Homo sapiens: one gene and its partners. The protein of the gene in region 1 purifies or fractionates together with the protein of each later gene. This does not show direct contact. Each region holds a gene or a part of one and is shown in the gene's direction. Other genes may lie near its edges.

Region 1 (3,978 bases):
TCTGGATCCTTTGTCTCCCAACTGGAGATCTTGGCGACCTCCAGAACTTTGGCCGTGGGTAAATTGAGGGGCGGGCTCCAGAACCCGCGGCTGACCAACCAACCGACCGACCCTTGGGTTGGCGGGAATAGTGCCTCGCTGCCATCTAGGGTGCTCGACCGGGCCCCAACAGCCCAAGACAGGGCATTACGACACAGCCCATTGTGCCTCTGAAGGCTCTCCCTTCACCACACGGCCTCATGGCCACCAGGCCTGAAGCCACCGGGCCCGTGGCCCTGCATGACCCAGACTTCAATGAGGAGAACTTACCCGGAGCTCGTGGAGCATGTGGCCCTGATGGAATGGATTCGCAAGCGGCTGGCCATATCTTGCAACACCTGCAAGGTGCCCCTGTCAGGTCTGGCCTCCTCCGGGAACTCAGCCCTCGCCTCAGCATCCGCCATTAGTCCAACCCCTTTGGAGTCTGAAGACCCACTCCTACGTCTCCGGCGTCTGAAGAGCGAATGGCGCCTGCGAGCTGCCCAGTGCGTTTATGTGATGTCGGTGCAGCTCCCTCCGCATGCCTCGTGCCACTCCCTCCACCTGCCGCTCCCTCCGCCGGCCGCTCCCTCCGCAAGCAAGTCAAGGGATCTGGAATGTTTGTGACTTGCATGTGCACAGTTATTGAAAATAGTCCCATTCTCATCTTCTCTCCTGCAATCTCAAAAGGGCTCCCTCCGCGCGGGTGCAGGGTCTTCTTTCTCTGCACAAAAAGTTCCGGCACTAGCTGTGTGGTGCCGCACGTGTCAGGGGGTGGTGCCGCACGTGTCAGGGGGTGGTGCCGCACGTGTCAGGGGGTGGTGCCGCACGTGTCAGGGGGTGGTGCCGCACGTGTCAGGGGGTGGTGCTGCACGTGGGACGTGCAGCTGCAACCGTAAAGGTGGGGGAGGGAGGGAGCTGCTGTGGCGCAATTTTTTGTTTCGTGATAAATGGTCACCCCTCCCCCACAACAGCCCAGGCTATGGCGGGCAGGGTGGGGGTGGGGCAGTGCTCAGGGTTCTGAGACGGTTGGCGCCTGCGCCAGCCTCCTTTCCTTTTTTAAAACATTCTATGAGGCAAGCCCCGTGTGATTGTTGAGGAGGAGTTAGCCCATTGCCAGCCTGTGACGTGACTGACTCGAATGAACCCTGGTAACTAGGGAATGTGCTCGCCCTGTGTCTGAAATGCCCCATGTCCGGTGGTGCCAGCACTAGCCCCCATGTCGGTCTCAGAGAACCTTCTCCCCACCTCTGAGGTGACCTACCGACCCAGAACTCGCATGGCTCCCAACGGCGCCAGCTCCACAGCGCCGTGCCCAAGTCCAGACATTCCGGATCCCAAGTGCTGTCTCTTGGTTCAAAAATGCCGAATTTCTACGTGAGCTCAAGTCAGGCCGCCTGGTCGCGCCACAGGCTGAATGCCCTTGGGTTCCCATGTTCTGCTGGGTTAAAGGGAATGTGTGTTTACATTTTTTTTTTTTTTGAGACGGAGTCTCGCCCTGTCGCCCAAGCTGGAGTGCAGTGGCTCGAACTTAGCTCGTTGCAACCTCTGCCTCCTGGCTTCAAGCGATTCTCCTGCCTCAGCCTCCTGAATAGCTGGGATTACAGGCATCCGCCACCACACCTGGCTAATTTTTTGTATTTTTAGTAGAGACGGGTTTTCACCATGTTGGCCAGGTTGGTCTCGAACTCCTGACCTCAGGTGATCTGCCCACCTCGGCCTCCCAAAGTGTTGGGATTACAGGTGTGAGCCACCATGCCAGGCGGTGGTGGGCACCTGTAATCCCAGCTAATGGGAATCTGAGGCAGGAGAATCACTTGAATCCGGGAAGCGGAGGTTGCAGTGAGCTGAGATGGCGCCACTGTACTCCAGCCTGGGCGACAGAGCAAGACTCCGTCTAAAAAAAAAAAAAAAGTGGCTGGGCACAGTGGCACACGCTCCTGTAATCCCAGCACTTTGGGAGGCCAAGGTGGGTGGATCACCTGAGGTCAGGAGTTCCTGACCAGCCTAACATGGAGACACCCCGTTTCTACTAAATACAAAAAAATTAGCTGGGTGTAGTGGCACATACCTGTACTCCCAGCTACTTGGGAGGCTGAGACAGGAGAATCGCTTGTACCTGGGAGGTCGAGGTTGCGGTGAGCCAAGATCGAGCCATTGCACTCCAGCCTGGGCAACAAGAGCAAAACTCTGTCTCAAGAAAAAAAATTTAACAGGCCACCTAATTGCGATTAAAAAAAAACCAAAACCCTGAATCTGTTTAGATTCCCACTTGCAGGGTATGTGACATCACCTTCTGCCACATTCTCGCCAGCCCTGGACATTGTTAGGCTTTTTAATTTTTGGCGTTCTGGTGGATGAGAAAATAGTATTTAATTGTTGCTTTTCGCTTACTATTCCCGGATCACCTTGCAATTACATGTTTTATTATACGTTTACTGTCTTTTGTTTTTCGTCGTCTGAGATGTCCGTGGCTACCCTTTAATGTCTTTATATTGGGTTATTTGCTCTTAGTTTACTGATTTGCAGTTCTTTATATATTGTGTTGATTAGCCCTTTATCTATCAGATATGTTTCAAGCCTTTTTTTTTCTTGTTTGCTTTTATTTATTTATTTTTTGAGATGGGGTCTCAGTCTGCCACCCTGGCTGGAGGGCAGTGGTGCGATCATGGCAGCCTCGACATCCCCGGGATCAAGCGATCCTCCCGTCTCAGCGTCCTGGGTAGCTGGGACTACAGGTGTGCACCACCACTCCAGGATAATTGTTGTATTAATTTTTTTTTTAATAGAGACGGGGTTTCGCCATGTTGCCCAGGCTGGTCTTGACCTCCTGAGCTCAAGAGATCCACCCACCTTGGCTTCCAAAGTGCTGGGATTACAGGCATGAGCCAGCACACCCAGCCCTTGTTTTTTTTTCTCCCCCTTTCTTTCTTTCTTTTTTGTTTTTGTTTTGATTAATCAAGTCCCATTTTTTTCTCCTCTTGGTTATTTGGATGTTATGTACATATGTAGCTTCTTTTCTAGTGATTACTTTTTTTTTTTTTTTTGAGACAATCTCACTCTTGTCAGTCAGGCTGGAGTGCAGTGGCGCAGTCTCGGCTCACTGCAACCTCCGTCTCCCCGGCTCAAGCAATTCTCCTGCCTCAGCCTCCCCAGTAGCTGGGATTACAGGTGTGTGCCACCATGCCCGGCTAATTTTTGTATTTTTAGTAGGGACAGTGTTTCGCAGTGTTGACCATGATGGTCTCAAACTCCTGACCTCAAGTGATCCACCCGCCTTGGCTTCCCAAAGTGCTGGGATTACAGCTGTGAGCCACCACGCCCGGCCCGGCCCCCCCCCCCCGCTCTTTTTTTTTTGAGACAAGGTCTCACTCTGTCACCCAGGTTGGAGGGCAGTAGCACAGTCACAGGTCACTGCAGCCTCTACTTGCTGGGCACAAGTAATCCTCCTGCCTCAGCATCCTGAGTAGCTGGGACCACAGGTGCACACCACTGCCCTGGCAAGACTTGCTTTTTAAACAGTTGTTGAATTCTTACATTTGTCAGTGGTGTACTGAACTCCTTCATGTCTAAAAATGTCTTTAGTCTAACCCCACAGTTGACAGTTGGGGTGTAGAATTTTAGGCTGGGAAATCATTTTTCCCTCAGAATTTCGAAAGCAGCACTTCATTGTCTTTTTTTTTTTTTTTTTTTTTTTTTTTTTGGGACAGAGTCTTGCTCTGTCGCCCAGGCTGGAGTACAGGGGAGTGATCCTCGGCTCACTGCAACCTCTTGGGTTCAAGCGATTCTCTTGCCTCAGCCTCCCGAGTAGCTGGGATTACAGGCGCCCACCACAATGCTGGCTAATTTTTGTATTTTTAGTAGAGACAGAGTTTCCTCATGTTGGCCAGCCTGGTCTCAAACTCTTGACTTCAAGTGATCCGCCTGCCTGGGCTTCCCAGAGTGCTGAGATTACAGGTG
Region 2 (4,048 bases), on another chromosome or scaffold:
CCGCCTCGGCCTCCCAAAGTGCTGGGATTACAGGCGTGAGCCACCGCGTCCAGCCTAATTTTTGTATTTTTTTTTTTTGTAGAGACGGGGTTTTGCCATATTGCCCAGGCTGGTCTTGAACTCCTGTGCTCAAGCAATCCGCCTGCCTTGGCCTCCCAAAGTGCTGGGATTACAGGCGTGAGCCACCACGCCAGGCCAAGAGAACGGATTTTAAGGTGAGGGGCGGAGCTTATAATAATTCAGCTCTGAGGTGGGCGTGGTTCAGGGCCGAGGGCCGGGGGCCGGGGCTTAAAGGAGAAACTCTGAGGGAACAGGGTATTGGAGGTGGGACTTAGAAGGTGCTGATGGGGGCGCACGACTGCTATGGAGGCGATGGGGAGAGAAGGAAGTACTTAATCTAAGGGAAGTTCCTGGGAGAGTGGAAGCTTAGCAGGAGGGGCTGAATGGGTCTGGGTTTGGCTGTTTGGGATGGGGCTGAGTTGGGAGCCGGGATTATAGCGATTATATGAGCGGGCAGTGTCAAGTGTGGTAAATCCATGGCTCTTGACCAGCATGCAGCAGAATCAGAGTATTTCAAAACACGGATCCCTAGACCCCCAACCCCAGGGCTTCTATTCCGCATGGTCTGAGCAGGCAGCCGGATGCTGCTGGCCTCCCAACTATCCTTGACAACCACCGATTTAAAAGAATGCTTTAGAGGTGGGAGGCACTCAAAAGTCACGAGGTGCAACTTAAATGCTATGGGGTGAAGGGGCGGGGCTTGGATGGAGGGGGCGGGGCCTAGGGAGGGGTGAAGTTCCAGAGAGTGGGAGCTTGGAGAGGGGGAAGAACAGGAGAAACTGCATGAGGGCGAGGGGACGAAGACAGACTTTGAGGCAGTAGGGGGCTTATAATCACGCTGTGAGATGGGCGTGGTTCAGGGCCAGGGGGCGGGGCTTCAGTGTGAGACCCGAGCCGGAGGTGTGGCTTAACCGGACGCCCAGAGCGTGTCGCGGGGTTCCCGTAGAAGAGGCGGGCATTCAAAGCGCAGGCGCACCTGGCTCAGTTCGCCCACCGGAATCGGCCCGGGCTTTCACTGCTCGCGTCCCCGAGTCAGTGCGCAAGCGCATTTCCCCCCTCCTGGTCCCCGCCACCGCCTCCTCTTTCCGATCCTCCACGCCGGCGCCTCGGGAACGGGCGCGACTTCCGCTTCCGGGCGGGCGGGCAGGCGGGCGGTGCGGGGCTGCCGGGGAGGGGGGAGGGGGCGGCACTTCCGGTCGGGCCCTCGGGTCTCCCCGGAGCGGCGGCGCCTCCTCCGCCTCCTCGGCCTCCTCCCGGCGGAGACCCCGGCGCCGGTGAGTGACGGGGTGCGTGGCCCGGGGGCCCGGGTGCAGCGGGGGCGGGGGGCCCCGCCCTGGCCCGCTGTGGTCCCCAGAACGTCCCCCAACCCCTAGCAAGTCAGTGCAGCTCCCGCCGGGCCCTTGCCAAGGGACCCCCAATCACTGCTCCCCGGTAGGATCACTGCAGATAGCTCCCCCATGAACGCCCCCAGCTAGGATGGCTGCCAAAGCGCTTTCATTCGTGGCGATCCCCTAAACGGCTGCCAGGGCCCCCAAATGATACCTCCTCGTAGGATCCCCTCCACATAGCGCTCCCCGTCATTGCTTCCTCCAGGTCAGCCTCCAGATGCCATCAGCATTGCCCCTCCCCATGTAGGGCAGCTGCTCGTGAACCCTCTTATTAGTATCCTCTATATAATTCTCCCCAGAGTGTTTCCTTAGTGCCTTGCAGCAGAACTGTCCCCCGTTATCTCTGTCCATACAGCAACAGCCCCCAATGGCCCTGACCACCTCCCTCCCCAGCAGAACGCCCCTTCGTGGGTGTGAAAATACTTTCTATTCTGGTCAGCACCAAGAATGCCTTTTTCCCTTCTGCAGGTCCTCCAGTGATTCCCCTTAAGAATGCCCCTTTCAAAGCCACCCCCCCATCGCAGCGGCACAGCTCCCTCTAGAGTTCCTTCACACTCACATCCTCTCCCGCCTCAGGTAGAAATATCCGCCTGCTTAGCTCCAGGCTCCCATGACATACTCCCGTACCTCCTCTCACCCCACCCTCATCGCGGTCAGCCCGTCTTCATTACTTCTGCCACAGAACAGTGTCCCGCAGTGAGGCGGTGAAGCCTTCCTTCCCAGAATGTGCCTCATCCTCTTCCTATGGCGTGAACAACTGTTGCCCTGACCTGCAGCTTCTCACCCAGCTCTCAGGCTATCGTCCTGGACTCCCTAGGGAAGACCCTGGACTTCACTAGGGTGTGACTTCTTTTCTCGTAGGCATTCCTTCTGCGTTGAACGCATATTCACTATTCTAGCTGAAGGGTATAATATACAGCCACGAAGGGGGTCGATACACACAGTGTTCTCACTGTGCGGGGTCTCACAGTCTAGTTGATCAGACACGAGTCGACAAAGATACACGGGGTTTTGTGGGTTCTCTGAGAGCCTGATGAACTACTTTAGAGGTGAAAGCTGAATTACAAGTGGCAGCTTAGCCATGCAAAGATCTGGGTGAGCAGGCAGCAAGAACAACAAGTGCAAAGGCCCTGAAGTGGCGGTGAGCACGGTGAGTGGAGGAGCAGCAGGGGAGGCCGGTGAGGGTGGAGTGGAAGATTTGAAGGCAAGAACAAGAGGAAGGAAGCTTTGGTCTCAAAAGGCTTTGGAGGTGAGGGCACTGGGATAAATTATCTAGCCTTTGTCAGCTCTACCGAGCCCAGAATGTTCTTCATTCATTCATACGTTCATTCGTAAACACTGGTTGAACAACTGTTTAATGAGCACCTACTTTACATTGGGGGTACAACAGAGAACAAAATAGACAAGAATCCCTGTCCTCATGGAGTGGATATGCTAGTTGAGGGGGCAGATGATTAAAAGACAAAATACAGGCCAGGCGAGGTGGCTCATGCCTGTAATCCCAGCAGTTGGGAAGGCCAAAGTGGGAGGATCGCTGGAGGCCAGGAGTTCAAGACCAACCTCGGCAACATAGTGAGACCCTGTCTTTACAGGAAAAAAAAAAAAAAAAAAAAAAAGCTGGGTGTGGTTGGTGGGCACCTGTAGTCCCCAGCTATTCAGGAGGCTGAGGTGGGAGGGCTGCTTGAGCCCAGGAGTTCGAGGCTGCAGTGAAAAAAAATAAAAACAAAAACCAAGAGTATATGTGCGTGTTCAGAATATCACGGGATAAAGAGATAGACCTGGGGGGCTGTGGTTCAGGATGGCCTCCCCCAGGATTTTCCTATGTCTTGTCATCTTGTCCCTCCCAAAAGCCACACACCAAAAAGTTATACAAGAGTAAAAATTCCCCTTCTCCTGGACAACTGTGGCCCACTTGGGGGCTGCTCTTAACAGCGCCCTAACCCCAGGAGCGAAGTGATTGGGAGGATGAGCCCTGGATTCCACTAGGGTTCACAGCTTTGAGCAAATCACTCCCTCCTTTCCTAGCCTCATTCATTCACTTCTTCAAACAAAAATGTATCAAGCCAGGAACTGTTGTAGGTCCTGGGGATGGAACAGTGAGCAAGAGATAAAAATCCTTGCCTTCAGGAAGCCGATCATCTGGATGGGGAGACCAACAAAATCAAGGCAAAGAAGTAGATTATGTGAGGTTATAAATGATGCTGAGCAGTAAGGAGAGAAATGAAGCAGGGTTAGGGAGATGAGGATGTGGGCCTGGGTGACAGGTCATTGGTTACTGAGAGGCTCATTGAGAAGACAGTTGACCAAAGATGGGGAGGAGGTGAAGGGGTGAGCGAGATGGTTGCCTGAGAGTCAGAATATTACAGGCAACAGCAACAGCCAGCGCAAAGGCCCTGCAGCAGGAATAGAGTGGGCACATGGGAAGAGCAGCCAGGAGACTGTGGAGGTCATTGTAAGGACTGTGGCTTTTTTTTTTTTTTTTTTTGAAAAGGAGTTTCGCTCTTGTTGCCCAGGCTGGAGTGCAGTGGTGTGATCTTAGCTCGCTGCAACCTCCGCCTCCCGGGTTCAAGTGATTCTCCTGCCTCAGCCTCCCGAGTAGC
Region 3 (3,500 bases), on another chromosome or scaffold:
GAAGTGAAACTATTATTTTTCCTTCTTAGGCCACCTAAGTCTTACATATTAAGTAACAGTGATGTTGGGGCATTAAATGGTCTGGTCCTATGGCCAGAAGAGAATCAGAAGGGGAGTGTTGGAGCCAAAACAAGATGAGTAAGGGAAAGAAGCAAAGTGGTAAATGCCATAAGAGAGAAATAAAAGAAAATGGGAGTTGGATGGGCACAGTGGCTCACTCCTGTAATTCCAGCACTTTTGGAGGCCGAGGTGGGTGGGTCACTTGAAGTGAGGAGTTCAAGACCAGCCTGGCCAACATGGCAAAACCCCATCTCTACTAAAAATAATACAAAAAAAATTAACCAGGCATGGTGGCAAGTACCTGTAATCCCAGCTACTCGGGAGGCTAAGGCACGAGATTCGCTTGAACCCAGGAGGTGGAGGTGATAGAGCAGGACTCCATCTCAAAAAAAGAATATGGGGCCGGGCGCAGTGGCTCACGCCTGTAATCCCAGTACTTTGGGAGGCTGAGGTGGGTGGGTCAGGAGATCGAGACTATCCTGGCTAACACGGTGAAACCCCATCTCTACTAAAAATACAAAAAAATTAGCCGTGCATGGTGGCGGGTGCTTGTAGTCCCAGCTACTTGGGAGGCTGAGGCAGGAGAATGGCATGAACCTGGGAGGCAGAGCTTGCAGTGAGCCTAGATCGCACCACTGCACTCCAGCCTGGGCCACAGAGCAAGTCTCTGTCTCAAAAAAAAAAAAAATGGAGGTATTGCTGACAGGAGTGAAGGGGGGAATACCATCAGGGGAGGGTTTATTGAGGAAGTAGCATTTGAGCCAGGCCTTGAAAGCCTAGTATGGTTTGAACATGTAGAAATGGGGTAGAAGGGCAATCAATGCAGAGGGAATAATCTGAGTAGGAGTGGAGTTTGAAAGCCTAGTGCGTTCAAAGCAGAGTCTTGAGTGGAAAAACCCAAACTCAAAAGTGTTTTTTCTATTCCCTCACTCGAAAACAATTGACACAGAAGACTTCTGTGACCAAATGTGTGGGAATTTTTCCCAACCAATAAGCAAGCAATTAATTCTGCAGTGGACACCAGTTGGGTGTCCTCTAATTCAGTTCAATTCTGACACTATCTACCCAGGGACAGCATCAGATTCCAAAGGTTGACGACTCAGTCTCTAAGCCCGCCCTTCTCCTTCATATGCCAGTCACAGGCTCCAGGTTGCTTTATCTGTGCTTCTCACCAACTGGCTATAAACGGGTTCCCACAACCCCCTCCTTGGGTTCAATTAATTTGCTAGAGCAGCTCACAGGACTGAAGGAAACATGTTTACTGGATTACTGTAAAGGGTATTACAAAGGATATGGATGAAGAGATGCATAGTGCGAGGTATGGGAAGTGGCGGGAAGCTTCTGTGCCCTCCCCAGGCAGGCATGCTATGCCCCAGGAACCTCTACGTGTTCAGCTATCCAGAAGCTCTCCAAACCCTGTCCTTTTGGGTTTTTAATGGAGACTTCATTATGTAGGCATGATTGATTAAACCATTGGCCATTGGTGATTAACTTAGCCTTCAGCCCCTCTCTTCCCAGGAAGTGTGGGTTGGGTGGGGGGCTGAAAATTATAACCCTCTAATCCTGCCTGGGTCTTTCCAGTGACCAGCCACCATCTGGAAGCTACTTAGGGGCTGCCAGCAACTAGTCAACTCAGCACACAAAAAGACATCACTTAGGAGGCACTAATGATTTTAGATTTTATATGCCAGGAAGCAGGGAAGACCAAATATATATTTCACAGTATCACAGAGAGTAAACAGTCTCTTTTAGTAGACAGAGAGTAACTAAGGGAGAGGAGTGAGAGAAAGGACTGGAAAGGAAAGCTGGGGTAGATCATCAAAGACCTTTCATATAGGGCTAAGTAGTTTTTGGTCCTTGTACAGTAGGCAGTGGTGAACTACTGAATGTTTTTGAACATGGGTGTGTCATTGTTTTACTTTTATGAAGACAGATCTGGGAGTAGTGTGTAGGAGGATTGGAGAGGAAGAAACTGGAGGTGGGGAGACAAATTAGGAAACTATCATGGTGTCTCAGTAAGAAGCATTGAGAACTGGGGCCAGGCATGGTGGCTCACGCCCGTAGTCCCAGCACTTTGGGAGGCCGAGGCGGATGGATCACGAGGTCAGGAGCTTGAGACCAGCCTGGCCACCATGGTGAAACCCTGTCTCTACTAAAAATACAAAAATTAGCTGGGCATGGTGGTGTGTGCCTGTAATCCCAGCTACTCGGGAGGCTGAGACGGTAGAATTGCTTGAACCTGGGGGTGGAGGTTGCAGTGAGCCGAGATTGCGCCATTGCACTCCAGCCTGGGCAACAAGAGTGAAACTCCATCTCAAGGGAAGAAAAAAAAGCATTGAGGGCTAGAACTAGGTAGAGGCAGTGGGAATGGAGATAAGATGGATGGAAAGATTAAGATGCATATGGGTGAACTGACCACTGGTTGGAAGGAGGAGTTTAAGGGAGAAAATTATAACGACTAGATTTTGAGCCTGATGACTGGCATGATGGTAACAGTAATATCAGAAATAGAGCCTGAGACTAAACAGGTTTGGGAGGTGTAGGATTGTTGAGTTCACATTTGGGCATGCTGAATTTGCGTCACTAGTAAGGTATCAATATAATGTCTAACAAACAGCTGGAAATTAGAGTCTAAAAGCTTAGGGCTAAAGATAGATATTTGGGAATTTCAGCATAGAGGTAAGAGAATATTTTTATGTATTTTTCCATTTTTTCTTTTTTCTTTTTCTTTTTCTTTTTCTTTTTTTTTTTTTTTTTTTTTTTTGAGACGGAGTCTTGCTCTGTCACCAGGCTGGAGTGCAGTGGTGCAATCTCGGCTCACTGCAACCTCTGCCTCCTGGATTCAAGCTATTCTTCTACCTCAGCCTCCCAAGTAGCTGGGATTACAGGTGCATGCCACCACACCTGGCTAATTTTTGTATTTTTAGTAGAGATGGAGTATCACCATGTTGGCCAGGATGGTCTCAATATCCTGACCTCGTGATCTGCCCACTTCAGCCTCCCAAAGTGCTGGGATTACAGGCGTGAGCCACCGCGCCTGGCCCCGTTAAACTTTCATAGCAATCTCATGAGAGAGTTACTCTTTTACAAACAAGTAAACTATGATGCAAAGAGGGCAGACTGCCCAAGGTCACAATACAGGCAGACTAGTCTGATTCTGGAGACTGTGCTCTTAACCATACACTCTGTTAGACAAACCCATTAAGAGAAAGAGTAGGAAAGAGAAGGGAACATGCCAAGGATGGATCTGAGGAGCTTAGACCTGGGAGAAGGAAGAGGGCCTGGAGACATAATCAGGGGAAGCAGCAGACCTCAGAGAATATAATGACATTGATGGCAAGAGAGTGGTTTCAAGTGGAAAAGAGTGGTCAAATAACATGTAAAATAATATGAAATGAAAAAAGAAATAAAATGGGGGTAAGGGAGAGATCATAGAGTAA
Region 4 (3,500 bases), on another chromosome or scaffold:
ATTTGAAATATGTAGTTAACCATTTTAAATCTACGGTTAAGTGGCTTTTAGTTCATTCACAGTGTAACATGTGCAGCCACCACCGCTGCCAAACTCTAGAACATTTTCATCACCCCAAAAAGAAACCCCATACCTATTAAGCAGTCCCTCTCTTTGTTCCCTGGCAACCACAGTCTGATTTTTGTCCTATGGGTTTGCCTATTCTAAACATGTCACATAAATGGAATCATAATACCTGGCCTTTTGGGGTTTTTTTTGTTTATTTTATTTTATTTGAGACGGAGTCTCACTCTGTCTCCCAGGCTGGAGTGCAGTGGTGTGATCTCGGCTCACTGCAACCTCCGCCTCCCGGGTTCCAGGGATTCTCCTGCCTCAGCCTCCCGAGTAGCTGGGATTACAGGTGCACACACCACACCTGGCTAATTTTTTTTTTTTTTGTAGAAACGGTTTCACCATGTTGGCCAGGCTGGTCTTGAACTCCTGACCTCAAGTGATTGGTCCGCCTCAGCCTCCCAAAGTGCTGGGATTACAGGTGTGAGCCATTGCACCCGGCTTGCCCTTTTGTTTTTAGCTTCTTTCACTTAACAGTGTTTTTATTCATCCATGTTGTAGCAAGTATCAGTACTTCATTCCTTTCTTATGGCATAGTAATATTCCATTGTATGGATACACCACGTTTTGTGTACCTGTTCATCAGTAGGCTGTTCTGAATAATGCCGCTTTTTTGCTATTATGAATAATGCTGCCTTGAATATTCTTGTATAAGCTTTTGTTTGAACATACATTTTCAGTTCTCTTGAGTATGTAACCACTGTATTTCTTTTGATAAGTTTATTATCATATAAAGTAGAAAGTTTTCCAATGGCTTGACTTTGGATAAAGTGCTGAAAGAATGCTACTTTCTCCTGGAATATGGTATTCCTTAGTGAATACTGAAATCACATAATTTTCTTGTTGTCTTTATAGAATAAAGAATTTTGGTCCAGATAGGGTAACAGTAGGTAGCCTTCCTCTAGAATTCTGTCAGAAGAACATCCTGAGTTATGTGAACCATTCAGTTATCTATCTGAGAGCAGCAAGTGGTCTCTCACTGTGCAGTTGGGTTATGAGGTCTGCTAGTGGTCTCAAGCAGTCTCTGAGTGTATGAATTGCATTTAACATTATGTATTCAAGCCGGGCACAGTGGCTCACGCCTGTAATCCCAGCACTTTGGGAGGCTGAGGTGGGTGGATCATGAGGTCAAGAGATCGAGACCATCCTGGCCAACATGGTGAAACCCTGTCTCTACTAAAAATACAAAAATTAGCTGGGCGTGGTCGTGGGCGCCTGTAATCCCAGCTACTCGGGAGGCTGAGGCAGGAGAATTGCTTGAACCCAGGAGGCGGAGGTTGCAGTGAGCCGAGATTGCGCCACTGCACTCCAACCTGGTGACAGAGTGAGACTCTGTCTCAAAAAACAAACAAACAAAAAAACCTATTATGTATTCAGAGGGATAGTAGGCAGGATTCCCATTCTGTAATCTATTTGGCATCAGTGATGTTACAGAGATTTTATTCTAACCACATTCCCTCAGGTTTGAACTATAATAGAATAGCATCAAATATTGTTTTCCTTTTTTCTATTTTTTGAGATGAAGTCTCTCTGTCTCACCCAAGCTGGAGTGCAGTGGCACGATCTCAGCTCACTGCAACCTCTGCTTCCTGGGTTCAAGCAATTCTCCTGCCTCAGCCTCCCGAGTAGCTGGGATTACAGGCACCCGCCATCATGCCTGGCTAATTTTTGTGTTTTTGTAGAGACGGTTTCACCATGTTGGTCAGGCCGGTCTTGAACTCCTGACCTCAGGTGATCCTTTTTCTACTTCAACACCTGACCCCAAAGCTTTGTTCTGCAGTGATTGCTTTGACACCTTTGCTTTGACAAATTCATTTTCCTCAGGAAGACTTGGCAAAAGTTTTCTTCTTTTGCCAGTTTGGGACAACCTGACCAATTCATTGAAACCTATTGTTGTTTTTCAGATTTCTTGAAAACAAGGAACATTCTTTGCTGTAGCTTATTTATTTACTTATTTATGTAGAAACAGGGTCTCACTTTGTCACCCAGGCTGGAGTGCAGTGGTGCAATCAAAGCTCACTGCAGCCTGGACCTCCCGGGTTCAAGCAATCCTCCTGCCTCAGCTCCCCGAGTAGCTGGGACTGCAGGTGTGTCCCACCGTCTCTGGCTAATTTTTGCATTTTTTGTAGAGATGAGGTTTCACCATGTTGCCCAGGCTGGTTTTGAATCCTGCGCTCAAGCAACCTGCCTGCCTCAGCCTCCCAAAATGCTAGGATTACAGGTATGAGCCACTACGCCCTGCCTGCTGTAGCTCATTTGTAAATGACTTTCGAGTTCCATTGAGACAGTGAAAAAAATCGATAAATTATATATTGACCACCATTTTTTTTTATCTCAAAGAATTTCTCTGTAGGCAAGCCCTTCAAAGATTTTGAAAACCACTGTTTATGTAGTAGAATACTAAGCTGGAAACAAGGAGGTTTTAGTTTTAATTTTATTTCTTCAAAAGACTCTGTTATCAGACAAATAGCTTGTACTTTAGAGCTTCATTTTATAAAGAAGAAATAATATTGACTGTGATTTGTAGGAAAGTGTGATGGGAACTGAGTTCTAATTCTAATAATCAGGGTACTTTGAAGTTTGTGGAAGACAAGCATGTTGGAAGATATGTATAAATTCTTTTTTTATTTTATTTTGTAGAAATGGGGTTGCACTATGTTGCCCAGGCTGGTCTCCAATTCCTGGGCTCAAGTGATCCTCCCGTCTCAGCCTCCCAAAGTACTGGGATTACAGGTGTGAGCCACCATGCCCAGCCTGAAAATTCTTGATATTGCTTTTTTCTTTATTTTAATAATGTAAATGATTCTGCTCATACTATTATAAAAGTCTTTGTCCAGTATGCGTGTATATTTTGTTTATTCATATATTTTACCTTTTTTTGGTGCTCTTTGTTCTTTTGTATAGTTCTAGATTTCTGTGTGGTATGATTTTCCTTCTGATTGAAGGATTTCTAATGTTTCTTGTAGTGCACATTTGCTGACAATGAATCCTTTTAGTATTTGGACATCTGAAGACTTTAATTTGTTTTTAGTTTTCGAAACTGTTTTCACAGGATATGTAATTACTGTTGACGTTTCTTTATGATGCTGTTTCACCATCTTCTGGCCTGCATTGTATCCAATGAGAAATCTGCTTTCATTGGGTTTATTTTTCTGTATGTAATGTGTGGTTGTTTCCTTCTGGCTGCTTTTATTTTTCTTTCAAAAATATATTTTTTCTTTTTTTAATTTAATTTTTTTATTTCTAAAATAAAATAAAATAGACGCGAGGTTTCACCATCTTGTTTCACCATGTTGGTGAAACCAAGTTGGTCAGGCTAGTCTTGAACTCCTGGCCTCAAGTGATTGATCCCTCTTGGCTTCCCAAAGTGTTGGGATTACAAGTGTGAG
Region 5 (3,500 bases), on another chromosome or scaffold:
AGTTCTGGGATTACAGATGTGAGCCACTGCACCCGTCCTTTTTTTTTTTTAAACAGAGTCTTGCTCTGTCACCCAGGCTGGAGTGCAGTGGCACGATCTCGGCTCACTATAACCTTGCCTCCCAGGTTCAAGCGATTCTCCCGTCTCAGCCTCCCGAGTAGCTGGGATTACAGGCACCCGCCATCATGCCCAGTTAATTTTTATATTTTTGTAGAGGTGGGGTTTCACCATGTTGGCCAGACTTGTCTTGAACTCCTGACCTCAGGTGATCCTCCCACTTTGGCCTCCCAAAGTGCTGGGATTACAGGCGTGAGCCACCATGCCTAGCCTTTTATTTATTTTTAAATTTTATTTTTTGAGACAGTTTCACACTGTCGCCCAGGCTGGAGTGAAGTGGCGCGATCTCGGCTCACTGCAATCTCTTCCTCCCGGGTTCAAGCAATTTTCCTGCCTCAGCCTCCTGAGTAGCTGGGATTACAGGCACGCATCACCACAGCCGACTAATATTTATATTTTAGTAGAGACGAGGTTTCACCCTGTTGCTCAGGCTGGTCTTGAACTCTTGAACTCCTGACATCAAATGATCCACCCGCCTTGGCCTCCCAAAGTGCTGGGATTACAGGCCTGAGCCACCGCACCCGGCCTCCAAATAACTGTTTCCATCATTTTGTGAAGTTCTCACCAAAAATTCCTATTGTGAGGTTTTTTTGTTTGTTTTGTTTTGTTTTTTGAGACGGAGTCTCGCTCTGTCGCCCAGACTGGAGTGCAGTGGCGTGATCTCGGCTCACTGCAAGCTCCGCCTCCCGGGTTCACGCAATTCTCCTGCCTCAGCCTCCCAAGTAGCTGGGACTACAGGCACCTGGCTAATTTTTTGTATTTTTAGTAGAGACGGGTTTTCACCGTGGTCTCAATCTCCTGAGCTCGTGATCCGCCCGCCTCAGCCTCCCAAAGTGCTGACATTACAGGCGTGAGCCACTGCGCCCGGCCCCTATTGTGATTTTAATTGGAGCTGACATAAATGGACAGATAACTGTGGCAAAAGTTAACCTTAAAAGTACAGTAGTAAGTTATTCAGACCAGGAACAAGGCAGACAGAATGAGAACCAAAGGCCCCAGGAGAGGGTCCACCTGGTGCCTTGCTGTGCAGACGTGTGGCAGGGCAGAGGTAGCACGGCTGTGTCCCAGCTGCAGACTGGAAACCACATATCAATCAGACCCAGGTCACATCTAGAGACACAAAGGGGTGGATAGGAGTTTCCTTGTAGGGGTAGATTTTACTACTTAACCTCCTTGCTACCATACCAGATTTTTTAAACAACCAGAATATTCTATCAACTGAGTACTATGATAAAAATTAGTTTTAGCCAGATGGTCTTGGGCTCAAACCCTGGAGCCACTGCATACCAGATGTGGGCTTTCTACGTGGCCCTGTGCAAGTTTCTCAGCTTCCCTGAGTGTGGTTTCCACAGCTGTAAATGGGTCCAGGGCTTAGGAGTGCACCACCAAGGCTGCTAGGAGGACGAATGCAAGTGCCAGGAAAGTGCTGAGAAACAGGAGGGCCACCCCTAAAACCCATGCTCAGATACGCACATAATAAACGCGTGGTGATACCAGTCACTCTCCCGGGACACCCACCCTGGATGACATGAAGGGGCCTGGGGAGCAGGGTAGGGAGGTGGCCCCATGGGCATGTTGCTTCCCCAGAGTAAAGGAAGGGGCTCAACTTGGCTGGGCGCGGTGGCTCACACCTGTAATCCCAGCACTTTGGGAGGCCGAGGCTGGTGGATCACCTGTGGTCAGGAGTTCAAGACCAGCCTGGCCAACATGGTAAAACCCCATCTCTACAAAAAAAATACAAAATTAGCTGAGTGTGGTGGTGGGCGCCTGTAATCCCAGCTGCTGCGGAGACTGGGGCAGGAGAATCGCTTAAACCCAGGAGGAAGAGGTTGCAGTGAGCCAAAATAAGGTCACTACAATATGGAAAGTCTTCTTTAAAAGGAGAGGGTGGTAGAGCAGCACTCCTCCCCGCCCAGAAGTGAGGCGGGCCGGTGGAACTGAGTGGTGAGTTTTTGAACCAAGCCCAGGATGTGTGAGAACATGGGTCTGGCCAGAACCCCGCACAGACTGGCACCGGTGATGGCTGGGGGTGGCTCTGTGGCCGTCTCACTAACCCGCCTCTCTTCCTCCTTTGCAGAACTTCTCCTCCGCCGTGAAGTCCCCGGTCCAGGTCATCCTGCTCCGTGCCCTCGCCTTCCTGGCCTGCGCCTTCCTACTGACCACCGCGCTGTATGGGGCCAGCGGACACTTCGCCCCAGGCACCACTGTGCCCCTGGCCCTGCCACCTGGTGGCAATGGCTCAGCCACACCTGACAATGGCACCACCCCTGGGGCCGAGGGCTGGCGGCAGTTGCTGGGCCTACTCCCCGAGCACATGGCGGAGAAGCTGTGTGAGGCCTGGGCCTTTGGGCAGAGCCACCAGACGGGCGTCGTGGCACTGGGCCTACTCACCTGCCTGCTGGCAATGCTGCTGGCTGGCCGCATCAGGTGTGCATGGGGCCAGGGCCAGGAGTTGGCGGGCAGGGGACTGTGTGCTGGATTACTGTCTAGGGCGGGGGCCAAGAGACCCCATTGGGTGCACAGCCCTAGGCTGAACTCCACCATGTCACTGGTACAAGGCTTGGTCCCAGGGGCTGGGAGTCGTAGGTGAGGTGAGGCTGCAGACGCCCTCTGAGCCAGCCCCGTGCACACCCGCTGTGGGCTGGGCCGGGTTGCCTCCTCTCTCCTCCTCGGGCTCTGTCAAATCAGGATGACGATAACCACCTGCCTCCTGGGTTGTGGGGGCTCACGTGGGGGCCTCTGGGGTTCCCTGAGTGGGAGCATGTCCTGTGAGTGCTGTGTCCCCGTCGCCCCTGCTCACCGACTCGGAGGAATTTTCCTTAGCCCTGTTTTAGGCTAGAACTTACAGGCTGAGGAGAAACACTGACCCACCTGCTCAGAGCCAGGTAGCGTGTGAGTGTGAGGGGATTCCGAGCCCACACTGTCCCCTGGCTCTGGACTCTTCTGAGCAGGGCCAGGTATAGACAGAGGAGGCAGGAAGGAAGGCGTGGACCCAGGAGGTCTTGTCCTCCCCTGGGGTGACCCCGCTGCTTCCCTTTCAGGCTCCGGAGGATCGATGCCTTCTGCACCTGCCTGTGGGCCCTGCTGCTGGGGCTGCACCTGGCTGAGCAGCACCTGCAGGCCGCCTCGCCTAGCTGGCTAGACACGCTCAAGTTCAGCACCACATCTTTGTGCTGCCTGGTTGGCTTCACGGCGGCTGTGGCCACAAGGAAGGCAACGGGCCCACGGAGGTTCCGGCCCCGAAGGTCAGAGAAGCAGCCATGACTGCGGGGGGAGGACACACGGATGCTCAGGCCCAGGCTTTGCCAGGTCCGAAGCGGGCCCCTCTCTGTCCTGCCTCTTTTCACCTGCTCACGCCCTCCCACCCCCACCCTACAGCCCCA
Region 6 (3,500 bases), on another chromosome or scaffold:
CATCATCTTTTTGCTGGTGGAGCCTTGATGTTGCCTTGATGTCGATGGCTGCTAACTGATCAGGATGGTGGTTGCTGAAGGTTCGGGTGGCTGTAGCAGTGTATTACAGTAAGACAGCAATAGAATTTGCTGCATTGATTGACTCTTTCATGAAAGATTTCTCTGTATGTAGCATGTGATGCTGTTTAATAGCATTTTACCCACAGTAGACCTTCTTTCAAAATTGGAATCAGTTGTCTTAAACCCTGCAACTGCTTTATCAATTAAGCTTATGTAATATTTCAAATCTATCATAACAATATTCACAGCATCTTCACCATGGGCAGATTCTGTCTCAAGAAACCACTTTCTTTGCTCATCCATAAGAAGCAACTCTTCATCCATTTGGGTTTTATCGTGAGATTGCAGTAATTCAGTCATCTTCAGGCTCCACTTTTCTCATTCTCTTGCCATTCTACCACATTTGCGTTACTTCCTCCACTAAAGCATTGAACCCCTCCAAGTCGTCCATGAGGGGTGGAATCAGCTTCTTCCAAACTCCTATTAATGTTGATATTCTGCCCTCCTCTCATGAATCACAGATTTTTTTTGTTTGTTTTTTGTTTTTTTGTTTTTTTGAGACGGAGTCCAGCTCTGTTGCCCCGTCTGGAGTGCAGTGGCACAATCTCGGCTCACTGCAACCCCCACCTCCTGGGTTCAAGTAATTCTGCTGCCTCAGCGTCCCGAGTAGCTGGGATTACAGGTGCCCGCCACCGTGCCCAGCTAATGTTTATATTTTTAGTAGAGACAGGGTTTACCATATTGGCCGGGCTGGTCTCAAACTCCTGACCTCAGATGATCTGCCTGCCTCAGCCTCCCAAAGTGCTGGGATTACAGGTGTGAGCCACCACAGCGGGCCAAATCACAGATGTTCTTAATGACATCTAGAATGGTGAATTCTTTCCAGAAGGTTTTCAATTTACTTTGCCCAGATCCATCAGAGGAATGGCAGAGGAAGCCTATGGCAGCTATAGCCTTATGAAATGTATTTTTAAATAAGACTTTAAAGTCAAAGTTCCACCTTGATCCATGGGCTGCAGAATGGTTGTTGTGTTAGCAGCCATGAAAACAACTTTAATCTTGTACATCTCCATCAGAGCTCTTGCGTGACCTAGGTGCATTATCAATGAGCGGTGATATTTTGAAAGGAATCTTTTTTTTTTTTTTTTTTGAGCAGTAAGTCTCAACGCTGGGCTTAAAATATTCCGTAAGCCATGTTATAGACAGATGTGCTCTCATTCAGGCTTGGTTCTTCCATTTCGAGAGTACAGGCAGAGTAGACTTACCATCATTCTTAAGAACCCTAGGGTTTCCAAACGGTAAATGAACATTGGCCCAACTGAAAGTCACCAGGCACGTTAGACCTTAGTGAGAGTCGGCCTGTCCTGATGCTTTGAATCCAGGCATTACTTCTCCTTTTTAGCAGTAGAAGTCCTGGATAGCATCTTCTTTCAACACAGGGCTATTTTATCTACACTAAAAATCTGTTGTCTAGTGTACCCATCTTTATTAATGATTTTAGCTAGATTTTCTGGAGAACTTAATGCAGCTTCTCCATCAGCACTTGCTGCTTCACCTTGCACTTTTATGTTATGGAGACGCCTTCTTTCCCTAAACCTCATGAACCAACTTCTTCCAGTTTCCACCTCTTCCTCTGCAGCTTTCTTGCCTCTGTCAGCCTTCATAGAATTGAAGAGAGTTAGGGCCTTGCTCTGGGTTAGGCTTTGGCTTAAGGATCTGTCACTGTGGCTAGTTTGATCTTCTGTCCAGGCCACTAAAACTTTCTTCATATCAGCAATACGGTTGTTTCACTTTCTTACCATTCATCTGTTTATAGAGTGGCACTTTTAATTTCCTTCAAGAACTTTTCCTTTGCATCCACAGCCTGGCTAAGTGTTTGATTTGAGAGGCTGGATTTTGGCCTGTTTTGGCTTTGGGCCTGCCTTCCTCCCTAAGCTTAATCATTTCTAGCTTTTGATTTAAAGTGAGAGACATGCAATTCTTCTTTTACTTGGACACTTAAAGGCCATTGTAGGGTTCTCAATTGGCCTAATTTCAATATTGTTGTGTCACAGAGAATAGGGAGAACTGAGAAGGAGAGAGATGGGGGAATGGCCAGTTCATGGAGCAGTCAAAACACACACATTTATTAATTGAGTTTACCATCTTATAAGAGTGTTGTTCCTGGCACCCCAAAACAATTACAAAAGTAACATCAAACGTCACTGAGCACAGATCACCGTAACAGATGTAGTAATCATGAAATCATTTGAAATATTTGAGAATTACCAAAATGTGACACAGAGACATGACGTGAGCACATGCTGCTGGGAAGATGCTGACACACCTGCCAGATGCAGGATTGCCGTGAACCTTCAGTCTAAAATAATCACAATATCTGCAAAGCGCAATAAAACAAGGTATGCCTATATCCTTAATAGCTGGTAGTCCAGACTGCCCTCTGGAATCTTCTGTTAAACACACAACATACTGAAAGGTAGCATTTTTTATTACTTTCATTCAGGAAAGGGGTGGGGCAAAGCATCTCGAGTAAGTAAAAATGGTTTCATTGAACTTTAAACAGCAGTATTTAATCCTGAGCATTCTGGCACATTGGCGTCTGTTTATTTAACAGGTGTACATGGACACCCTCTCAGTGTGCCAGGCCGTGTTGCGTGTGGCAGACTGTGCGAGGGGAACTAACTGTCCTGTTCTGAAATGGAACAACGAGGGGCTTCATGGATTTGGAGAGAAGTACAGTTTAGGGTCCAAGGACCTTTTGCTTTTAAATATTACACTCTTCTTCAAATAATCTGAATTTAAACCGCTTAGGGCTCTCTTTTAAACCACCATTGGGGTCAAGTAAGACATATTCTGGGGAACCAGACTCATTTACCTAACCATGTCCCACTTCTGTATATGTGTGTGTATGTGTGTGTGTTTGCATATATATATACACACACATATACACACACGTATGTATATGTTTGTATTTCAGGTGAAAGTCACATAAAATTGGCCATTTTAAAGTGTATGTTTCAGTGGCATTTAGTACATTCACAGTGTTGTACGGTCACCACCTCTATCTGGTTCCAGAACATTTTTATCACCCCAAAAGGAAAATCCTCTGCCCATTACATAGGTACTCCCCATTGCCAGTCTGTTTCTGTCTCAATGGATTTACCTCTTCTGGATATTTCATATGCATAGAATCATACAATATGTAACCTTTCGTGTTTGGCTTCCCACTTGCTTTTAAGAAAACTAGCTCACCCCAGAAGAGGAACTTAGCAGAAACGAGCTCCACAATGGGGTCTCGAGTAGGAGTCCCCTGCAGCCTGTTGCTCTGATTGTGGCTTCCCCTGTTGTTTCTCCTTTGGTTTGCTGGTCAGTCTCTTCTCCTTTTTCTCTTACCCAGTGAATTGAGCTTTGCTTATTTTGACTTTGTCCATCTGTTATTG
Region 7 (4,057 bases), on another chromosome or scaffold:
TTAGAAAGTAGCTGCTTGGCTGAAGTAAATTCTTAACAAATTAGTCTCTTCTAGGATACACATTAAAATGAGTGGTTGGAATGGGAAGAAGACAGAACAGAAAGTCAAGAAACTCCGACTAGTGAGACTGAAGTGAGGCTACAATGGCATGATGGGTGCGAAAGAGATTGGTAAACTGTAAAATCCTTTAGAGACCGTGTGGCCCCTTCACTGTCTAGGCCAGTGGTTCTCAAAGGGTAGTGTGTGTCAGAATTACCTGGAGGGCTTGTCAAAACACAGATTTCTTGGCTCACTACTTCTGATTCTCTAGGTCTGGCTGGTGGCCAAGAATTTGCATTTCTATCAAGTTCCCGTGTGATGCTGAAGTTGCTAGTCCAAGGATCACAATTTGTGAACCACTGGTTGCTGGATGAGTAAAATCCATTGTGTCCACAGGAGGCATACAATAGACACTCAGATGGGGTTGTTATTATTACTACTCTCCATATCTTGGTAACCCCAACGTTTGCTCTCTTCTGCTTCCAGATTACTCAGCACAGTTTGGCTGAGATTTATGCAAAGAGAGACAGCATTCCCTTTCCACACATCTATATGTAGCAACCTCCTGCCATTAATACCCTTTCTTATTTAAAAGCTGCTTCACAGTTTGTAAGGAACTCTCACATACGTTATTGTGTTTTTATATGAAATTCTTCCCAATTTCTGAGCATAAATTATGCCAAGTAAAGTCTCATTAAGAAATAATGCACTTAAAGCGGGGGACGGGGCGATGAGGAGAGAACGCCCCCTCCCCTTGGCATTTGCAGCTCTGAATGTAGGCATAGATTTAACTCAGACCAAGTATCCTAGAGGGGATAGGTGTCTCCCTTATGGCTAGAAGGTGCAAAGTTAAGAGCCCCAAAAAGCAGTGATAATAAACATCCCTCTTGTGCTCCTTCTCGCCAAATAAAGCGAATGGGTGGAGGAAATCCTGGGCGAGCCCTCCTCGGCAGGGTCCCTCAAGCTGGAGCCGAAACTGCGACTCCCACGCCCGCCGCCCCCGCCCCTGAACTGCAGCCCGCTCTCTGCAATGCAAAAACGCAGCAGCATCGTCCTCCAGCCCTCTCCTGGGGGATCGCACGGTGCAACCAACCCCAAAAACGAAGCTGCGCGACGCCCCCTCAGCCCCGCGGGCTTCCCATTGGCCGGTTGCCGCTGTCACTCCCTCCTAGCCTCGCCTTCCCGCTCCCGGGCGGAGGCAGCCGGGCGGGGTAGGTTGCGCGCTCGCCGCGGGCTCGGGCCGCGGTCGCGGCTTTGCGGCAGGCTGCGCGTCAGGCGGGGAGCGGGGCGCGCGGGCCGGGGAGGGGGCCGGGCGCGCTGCGGGCTCCGCGGCCGGACCATGCGGGGCAGGGGCCGGTTGCAGGGCCGGGGGCTGCAGCCGGCGCCGATGGCGGCCGACTAGGACCTGCCCGGCCGGCTGCCCCGCGCCCCGCCTCGCCCCGCAGCCCGGCCGGCCGGGAGGGATGCGCTGTGCCGCCCAGCTCCTCTCCGTCCTGCCCATGCCCTGAAGCAGAAAGTTTGGGGGCCGGGGGTTGTCTCCCTTCTCCCTCCTGCAATGACTGCCCAAGGACTCTTGCTGCCCAGCCTCGACTGTGACCTGTCTTCGCTCCCCAGGTCGAAATGAACTATTCCAAGCTATAACCAAGGCTCCCCCTTCTCGCCCCTCCCTCACCCGCCTTTAAGAATTTTTTTTTTAATTCAAGAAATTGTGGTCTGCCATCTCCCCTCCTTGTTAATAATTTAGACCCCAGGCCTCATATGAATATAAGAGGGGGTGCGGTCTTCCCCAAGACGGCGCGCTGGAAGGACAGATTCCCCTTGCCGACCCACATACACCATGAAGAGGTGCAGATCGGACGAGCTGCAGCAACAACAGGGCGAGGAGGATGGAGCTGGGCTGGAAGATGCCGCTTCCCACCTGCCGGGCGCGGACCTCCGGCCTGGGGAGACCACGGGTGCTAACTCTGCTGGCGGGCCAACTTCAGACGCCGGCGCTGCCGCGGCGCCCAACCCAGGTCCCCGAAGCAAGCCTCCTGATTTAAAGGTGAGCGCAGACCATCCCCCCGGCAAGCCCAGCCCGCGACTTAGCTCTCGCCACCCCACGCAGAAGTGCTTTAACAGGATAAAAGTGAGGGGGGAAGCCAGGCAAAGGTCAGAGAGGATGAGCGGATGCTTTGCTGGCACCCCAGGGGGGACGTCAGGTACCATTTATGCCTCTGTCTTTCAGCTCCGTGTCAGGTCTCTGTGTTTGTTCCCCATTATTCAGCAAGCGTTTTAGTGACTCACCCATCCGAGATTGTTTGAATAATGTGTGAAGTGTTATTCGCAGACAAAGGGCTGGAGAAATCCAAGATGCTAACCAAAAAGTGGACAGCAGGTGACCATTAGTTTTCCTTGCTGAGTAAGTCTCTACCCATTGGGATCTTTGTGTGTGTGTGTGTGTGTGTGTGTGTGTGTGTGTGTGTGTGTGTATGTGTGTGAGACGGAGTCTCGTTCTGTCGCCCAGGCTGGAGTGCAGTGGCGCGATCTCGGCTCACTGCAACCTCCACCTCCTCGGTTCAAGCGATTCTCCTGTCTCAGCCTCCAGAGTAGCTGGGATTACAGGCACCCGCCACCACGCCCGGGTAATTTTTGTATTTTTAGTAGAGACGGGGTTTCGCCATGTTGGCCAGGCTGGTCTTGAACTGACCTCAGGTGATCTACCCGCCTCGGCCTTCCTAAGTGCTGGGATTACAGGCGTGAGCCACCGTGCCGGGCCCCATTGGGATCTTTGAGCGCTTTCCTGGATGAAGCTCAGTTTGCCGATCTGTGAAGGGGCGGGGGGGGGGGGGTGGTGGCGGGGGCGGGGGGGGAAGGTGGATTTCCTGCCGTTAGGTGGAGCCAGAGGTTAAGATAGTGCTTGGAGATCTCTGCCTGCCTGCTGAACCAACCCCCAGGGTGGAGAACTGACAGGTGGTGGAGCAGTGCTTGGGCTGGTTTGGGGCCTCAGTTCAAGTTGCATACATGCTGAGCCAGCAGCTAGAACCAGAAGCCGAAAGAACTGTTCACATGGAGCTGTTTATTTTCCGGCCTGAGGTTGCCGAGACAATTGGCGAGCTGTCTTGAATATATCTCTATCAATTAAAACAGCAGCTGAGATAAATAATGCACCTTTGCCGGAACTGCCACAGGGACTGCAGGCTCAGGCTTCTCAAGCCAGCTCACCGTCCAGCTGAGCGAGATGTCAGCCCAAGGAAGGAACTTAGATGCCTTGGAAATTGATGCCTCACAGTTATTTTCTCCAGAGAAGGTGCAGGGTCTGGGCTAGGGAAACGGAAAGGACTCTGTTGCATTTAATAAAGCCTATATCCTATGGCAGCAGCCACTAAGGAGCTCACCAGAATAAGCCAATGCCATTCCTCATTTGGCCTGAGCAGCTCAGAGTCAGGAAGTCAGAGCGCAGGTGAGTGTGTGTGCTCTTACCTGTGTATGTTACCTGTCTGTGTGCCTTGGGGAGGAGTGAAAAGGGGGACGACTAGGTTATTGTTGTGTGTGTTTTTTAAACTTTGCAGTAATTATTCAAATCTGAACTCTGGTTCTGCCGCCGTCCTTTTCAGAGCTTCGTGGCTAGACTTATGTCTAGAGGATCTCTGTGGGATAGGCTCTCTCTGCACAAGAAGCTTGAGCTTTTGCCAGGCCCAGGGAGTCCTTGGTGTTTATCTCTGCTGTCACCCCCGAGTCCATCCCATGTGGTCAGGAGGTGTAGTTCCTGTTTTAAGTGAGATGGTGAGGGGGAAGGGGTCTCTTGAATGCTGTTGTGGGGAGGAGGCTAGCCTTCTGCTGCAGACTTCAGCCTCATTCTGAGCCGGTCCAGATGAGTCTGGCCAGCAAACCCTGAATCTTTGACCAATGAGACCCTCAGCTGAGTCTGTGAGAGGCAGCTTTGGAAATTCCCCACTCTCCAACTCAGGACAGCAGTGGAAACTGCTTTCTCCATTTATTCCCCCAGTTGCCTTCATGAGGAAGATGGGTTGGTCAT

What was found.
Region 2: the proteins of TEX28 (region 1) and ZNF865 purify together in Homo sapiens (affinity purification with mass spectrometry; 2 studies listed by BioGRID and IntAct, with this or other methods). This does not show direct contact.
Region 3: the proteins of TEX28 (region 1) and BLTP2 purify together in Homo sapiens (co-immunoprecipitation; 3 studies listed by BioGRID and IntAct, with this or other methods). This does not show direct contact.
Region 4: the proteins of TEX28 (region 1) and TMCC1 purify together in Homo sapiens (co-immunoprecipitation; 3 studies listed by BioGRID and IntAct, with this or other methods). This does not show direct contact.
Region 5: the proteins of TEX28 (region 1) and TMEM201 purify together in Homo sapiens (affinity purification with mass spectrometry; 2 studies listed by BioGRID and IntAct, with this or other methods). This does not show direct contact.
Region 6: the proteins of TEX28 (region 1) and RTF2 purify together in Homo sapiens (affinity purification with mass spectrometry; 2 studies listed by BioGRID and IntAct, with this or other methods). This does not show direct contact.
Region 7: the proteins of TEX28 (region 1) and TMCC2 purify together in Homo sapiens (co-immunoprecipitation; 3 studies listed by BioGRID and IntAct, with this or other methods). This does not show direct contact.

Annotation. Positions count from the first base shown.
Region 1 is NC_000023.11:154,292,325-154,296,302, reverse strand, and holds the start of TEX28 (testis-specific protein TEX28), read left to right. Parts: upstream 1-1,178; 5' UTR 1,179-1,273; intron 1,274-1,279; exon of another isoform or gene 1,280-1,297; coding exon of another isoform or gene 1,298-1,395; intron 1,396-3,978. Other genes in the region: TKTL1 (transketolase-like protein 1), read right to left, coding at 310-443.
Region 2 is NC_000019.10:55,604,399-55,608,446, forward strand, and holds the start of ZNF865 (zinc finger protein 865), read left to right. Parts: upstream 1-1,248; 5' UTR 1,249-1,334; intron 1,335-4,048. UniProt on the Homo sapiens protein: May be involved in transcriptional regulation.
Region 3 is NC_000017.11:28,624,659-28,628,158, reverse strand, and holds part of BLTP2 (bridge-like lipid transfer protein family member 2 isoform 1 precursor), read left to right. Parts: intron 1-3,500. UniProt on the Homo sapiens protein: Tube-forming lipid transport protein which binds to phosphatidylinositols and affects phosphatidylinositol-4,5-bisphosphate (PtdIns-4,5-P2) distribution.
Region 4 is NC_000003.12:129,883,712-129,887,211, reverse strand, and holds part of TMCC1 (transmembrane and coiled-coil domains protein 1), read left to right. Parts: intron 1-3,500. UniProt on the Homo sapiens protein: Endoplasmic reticulum membrane protein that promotes endoplasmic reticulum-associated endosome fission.
Region 5 is NC_000001.11:9,598,911-9,602,410, forward strand, and holds part of TMEM201 (transmembrane protein 201), read left to right. Parts: intron 1-2,194; coding exon 2,195-2,544; intron 2,545-3,158; coding exon 3,159-3,362; coding exon of another isoform or gene 3,363-3,381; exon of another isoform or gene 3,382-3,500. UniProt on the Homo sapiens protein: Critical regulator of angiogenesis and endothelial cell (EC) migration. Promotes the migration of endothelial cells, which is essential for angiogenesis.
Region 6 is NC_000020.11:56,478,627-56,482,126, forward strand, and holds part of RTF2 (replication termination factor 2), read left to right. Parts: intron 1-3,500. UniProt on the Homo sapiens protein: Replication termination factor which is a component of the elongating replisome. Required for ATR pathway signaling upon DNA damage and has a positive activity during DNA replication.
Region 7 is NC_000001.11:205,226,689-205,230,745, forward strand, and holds the start of TMCC2 (transmembrane and coiled-coil domains protein 2), read left to right. Parts: upstream 1-1,257; 5' UTR 1,258-1,876; coding exon 1,877-2,083; intron 2,084-2,242; exon of another isoform or gene 2,243-2,440; intron 2,441-3,026; exon of another isoform or gene 3,027-3,481; intron 3,482-4,057.